Regions from separate parts of the Homo sapiens genome. Here region 2 is linked to region 1. The links come from fine-mapping of genetic effects on gene expression. Tissue or cell type: whole blood. Region 1 holds a variant in brackets; the other region holds the start of a gene. All regions are shown on one strand. Distances are from middle to middle.

Region 1 (2,684 bases):
GAGGTAGTGCAGAATAAAAGCATGACAGACAGTTAAATGTATAAGAAAAAAAGATCTTAATATTTGAGAAGAGAGTGTTAGCTATACTGGGAAGATATAAGGTGGTCATTAATTTCAGCTCTGAGTTTCCTAGCAACAAAAGTAAAAATAGAAGCATATTTCCCATTCTAAAACAAAAGGGAAGCACATAAGTCTATCTAGAAATAAATACCTTCCTGTTGCTAAATTCTAAGAAGAATTGCCATGCATTTCCTTACATAAGAGGCACCAAGTAACATAACAAAGAGTATGCTTTGGGCCAAACTTGCTGAAGATATAAAACTTTTCATATGACCATTTATCTTAAAGGCCCTTGAGAAAAGGCAAAGACATTAGATCTAGTATTTCAATGAAGACAAATCTTTTGATTCTAACATAAACCAGATACATTGTTTTTAGGTGATTCCAATTTTGATGTTTCCAAAACATGAGCTAAATCATGGCAGTCACTAGTGCTATTTACCAAATATTTCTAGTTTCTCCATTTCCAGAAACATGTCAAGATTTGTGCTTCTCTGCCCTTTTAGGTGAAACCATGTGGCATTCTGTGGCCAACAGAAGGCGATCATCAGTAATACGTGGAGCTACCAGGTGGAAGCTTCAAAGCCAGTGTACATTTTGCCATAACATTTATCAAAGATGCTTAACAAGTTTCTTAGCTATGACACCTAAAACATAAGCAACCAAATTAAAAATACATTGGACTTCATAAAAATTAAAAACTTCTGTGCATCAAAGGACACTATCAACAAAGTGAAAAGACAGCCTACAGAAAGAATTTTCAAATCATGTCTGATAAGGATCTACCATCCAGAACATATATATATATTTTTTTAAATCTCACAAGTTAACCCAATTAAAAAATAAACAAGAGGATCTGAATGGTGATTTATCCCAAGAAAATATATAAATGGCCAATAAGCACATGAAAAGTTGTTTAACATCATTAGTCATTAGGGAAATGCAAATCAAAACCACACTTACTAAGATGGCTATAATCAAAAAGGACAACAACAGCTATCGGAGAGGATGTAGGGAAATTAGAGACTTTATGCATTGCTGATGTAAAATGGTGCAGCCACGTAGAAAACAGTTTGGCAGTTCCTCAAAAGTAGAATTATCTTATGACTCAGCAATTTCACCCCAGGTATATACCCAAGAGAATTAAGAACATAAGTTTGCATAAAATGTACACATGAATTTTCATAGCAGCATTATTCACAATAGCCAAAAGGTGGAAACAACCCAAATGTCCATCAATTGATAAATGAGGATAAACAAAATGTGGTGCATCAATAAGATGAAATATTATTTAGCAATAAAAAGGGAATGAAGTCCTCATCCATGCTATAACATAGATGAGCCTTAGGCTGGGTGCAGTGGCTCATGCCTGTGATCCCAGCACTCTGGGAGGCCAAGGCAGGTGGATCACCTGAGCTCAGTTCGAGACCACCGTGGCCAACATGGTGAAACTTCGACTTTACTGAAAATA[C/T]GAAAATTAAGCTGGGCATGGTGGCGCATGCCTGTAATCCCAGCTACTGGGGAGGCTGAGGCAGAAGAATCGCTTGAACCTGGGAGGCAAATGTTGCTGTGAGCTGAGATCGCTCCACTGTACTCCAGCTTGGGTGACAGACCAAGACTCTGTCTCAAAAAACAAAACAACACATAGATGAGCCTTGAAACCATTATTCTAGGTGGAAGAAGCCAGACATAAGAGGCCATGTGTTGTATGGTTTCATTTATGTGAAATATCCAGAATAGGTAAATCCACAGAGACAGAAAGCAAATTAGTGGTTGCTAGGGGTTAGGGAATAGGGAAAATGTAACTGCTAGTAGCCACAGGGCTTCTTTTCAGGATGACAAAAATGTTCTCAAATTAGACAGTGGTGAGAGATTAGATTGTATAACCTATGTGAATATACTAAGCAACACCAAATTATACCCTTTATAGTGGCATATTGTGACTATATGTGGATTATATTTGAATGCAATATTTTTTAAAAGAATGTTCAAGTCAAAATGAAGCCTCAGTCAGCCTGGGTCACTGAGTGACCTCAATTAGCAAAATTCCCTCAACTGCTATTGAGTTAAGTAACTGAAATTTGTTTGTATATTGCTATATAAGTTATCCTATCCTTACTGATATCAGAAGAGATTCCTTTAAAAAGAAACAAAAACAAATTTATATAGACCCCAAAGTTAATTTAAATTATTTTCATTATATATTACTTAAATATATGCACATAGAAATTTCAGTGTAAGGTCTTTAGGCTTAGATATACAAGTAATAATAAAGTCAAAATAACCTTACAAATTAAACATATTCAAAACTGCAAAATCAATGAAATCAAGCTACAAACATTAAATTGGTATGGGAAATGATGCTATTTGCTGAAACCAAATCACACTTGCAAAAACATTGATAGCTATGGCACAGGTCATTCATGTTTGACGTGCATATAGTGTCAAACTAGGTGATGCCCCAATTTTCCATCACTTTTGTAGGTTCAAACACCTGCAACAATATTATTCACCCAGTCTTCACTTAGCACAAATGAGGCTCATTAACCTATGGCAAAGTAATTCTACTCTATACCAGCACAAAAAGAAGTACACACACAAACTATGGAAAAGGAAAAATAAGG
Region 2 (2,684 bases), 210 kb before region 1:
TTTGGGGGCTGGGCACATCACTCAGACTTGTTTTCTCAGCTGATCTAGTCCAGCGAACAGGTGTTTGGTTAATTCCCGCCCCCACCCCCATCTTTTTTTTTTTTTTTTTCAAAGGCATGTAAAAGTATCTCCTAAGGAGCGCCCCCGCCTTGCTGAGAAAGTCATGCAGGACACATGGAAAGTGGCTTTCCAACTTGTGCGGGGCGCGCCAGTCTGCGGGGGAGACGGGGTGCACCGTGAGTTTGGGAAAGGCCTAGACCATCCTGGAACTACGCTCCCTGCAAACCCACAGCAGCGCTGCGGTGACCCTGAACGCCACCCCAGCCCCAAACACACACGTGAAGCTCAGCAAAGCGTGCCACCTGCCGGGGTCCCAGCAAACACGCCCGGAGGGAAGAACCGGCGGAAAGCACTTTGTTTAAAACAGAAAAAAAAGTAAACTCTCCCGGGGCCCAGCCTAGCCCTCGGGTTCTCCTCCTTCCCGAGCTGAATGGAGGGAGGCGCCGCGCGGGGCGGGTCAGGGCGGGGAGCCGAGCGCGCTGGGCGCTGGGTGCGCCTCGGCCGGCCCGGGCGCGACCCACGGGCCAACTACTCCCCGGGGCCGGCGGGAACAGGGCGCGCCCTCGCCTCAACTCGCGCGCAGGCCGGCGCCCCAGTGGGGGTGGGAAGGGTCTGGGAACTCACAGCCGCTTGTCCTCGGGCTGCAGTTGCCAGTGCATGGCCAGCGAGAAGCCGAAGAGGCTCCCGGGGTCTCCATATTTCCGGATCACGTTGTCCTCCCGAGTGTCCAAGTTGAAGGCTGCGCCGAGCCGGGACAGGAGCCCCGCCGACAGGTAGAGCAAGCACAGCTGCCCGGCGGCGGCCATGGGCGGACGCACGGGGAGGGGAGCGGGGACCTGCAGCGGCCGCCCTGCGCTCCGGGCTGGGTCCGAGGCTGCCGCGCTGCTGCTACCGCAGCCACCTTCGCCTCCTCTCGCCGCTGCGCCCGGCCCCACCCCCGGGACGGGTCGCGCTCTCCGTCCGGCCGCTCCCCCTCGCGGGCAGCTCGCGACCGCTGAATGAGCCCGTTGTTCTCTGGAGACTCGCAGGCGTTTTATCAAGTGACGAGGACGCCGGCCCCGCCCCTCCCCACCCTCTCGCCCCTCCTTGCGCGCCCGCGGCCCGGCGCACCGCCCGCACCTTACCCGCCGGCTCTGGCGTCTCCAGCTGCCCGGTACCTGCCCGGAAGCCACGACGTGGGAGCCCCGGAGGCGAGCTCGCGGCGAAGCAGCCCCACTGCGCCGCCCTCTGTGGACAGAATTGTGGTTGCCGAGTAGCACAGAGCGAGGGAGACTTTACTACCCGTTATAAAGAGAAGTGCAGGTGATGCACCGGGCCTCATGGCCTGAGCAGCCTGTTCTTGCAGATGTGGGCCCACGTGCAGATGCATACGTCATTCATTCATTTCTACAGGTGTTTATGGAGCGCTTAAGGCGTGCCCAACACTTGGGGACTACAGCTGTGTAGACTGTTCTGGGTCCTCAAACACCTAACAACCCTCAAAAATGATCACAGCGCACACCTTGATAGTGCTGTATAATGTACACAACCCAGCCATTACCTCAATTCATCCTAACAGTCCTATGAGGTAGGTGTTTCTTTTTGCAGATCAGAAAACCGAAGTTCCGCCTTGTCCCCAGATCACCTAGGATTTTGCCCAGGTGACCAGGAGAGCTTGTGGAAGAAGTCACGCAAGTCAAGGATGGGTTGTTTAAAGTGGCGCCAGGAGCTCAGGCGACGATGCCGTTCTTTCCTAGCCCCGGACTTTCAGAACTAGTTGTGGGGAGAACTGCTGGGCCAAGAGACAGCTCCGAGTTCTGTGTAGGTGGCATGAAGGCTCCTGCCTCCAGGACATGAGGCGGGGCTCCAGTGAGGTGTTGGCCCTAGGGGCAACCTTATCCTGCAGGGGTTCTTAACCCGAGGAGAGGTAATTAATTCAAGAGTACTGTGAACTTGGATGAGAAAAAATTTACGTCTTAATTTTCACCAACCTCTGACATTTAGCACGTTTTGCCATTATGAACGTAGACAACAAACTACAGTAGCAGTAGGATAAGTATTTATGACTTAGTAATCACTAGAAACCATAGGTTTTTACATCACATCACAGTTGTTGCAAGTATCTCAAATAACAGTAGTTATTAGACAATCAGCCAGATATTATATGTCAATAATGAAGCATATATATTGCTCTAGCACAAATTTTTAAAAACATTTTGTTAGCTACATTTCAATATTATTGGCTTTTTTTGTAACCTCTTGTGGTTTCTTTTATGTATTTAAAACCCTTATTCTGAGAAGAACCCCATGGTTTTCAGCAGCCTGCCAAAGGGGTCCCATGGCATGAAAAGGTTGGGACGTGCTGGCCTGAAGCCTTCTGGAATGCCTTGGGGAGCCCTCTTTGGAATCTGACATCCCTGCATTGGAAATACAAGCAGGGTGCAGCCCCAGGAAAGAGCAGGAGCTGTGTGTGCATAGGGGTAGGGGTGGCCTCTTCTTCACCTCAAGGAGTATTCAAGAGAACAGCATGTGCCACTCAGAAAAGCTGCGTGAACATCATCAAGGGTCCCCACAGGTGGTAGCAGCTGTCAGAGTAAGTCCGTCAGTATATTAGGGGTGTGTACCACTTCCTTTCCAATCAGTAA

Evidence for each region. PIP is the estimated chance that this variant, and not a neighbour inherited with it, causes the effect.
Region 2: it holds the start of ITGA6, and the variant in region 1 is fine-mapped to the expression of ITGA6 in whole blood (TOPMed, PIP 0.97).

What each region holds. Positions count from the first base shown.
Region 1 is chr2:172,217,871-172,220,554 of GRCh38, reverse strand. No RefSeq gene overlaps it. Among named protein-coding and RNA genes, the nearest start is that of DLX2-DT, 120 kb to the right of the region's middle. The variant C/T (reference allele first, on the strand shown) is at 1,532.
Region 2 is chr2:172,425,971-172,428,654 of GRCh38, reverse strand. It overlaps ITGA6 (integrin subunit alpha 6), which reads right to left and starts at 1,069. Exons shown (of 26, transcript NM_000210.4): 1 at 685-1,069. The coding sequence starts at 866. RefSeq lists an enhancer at 1-257 and a silencer at 1,042-1,121.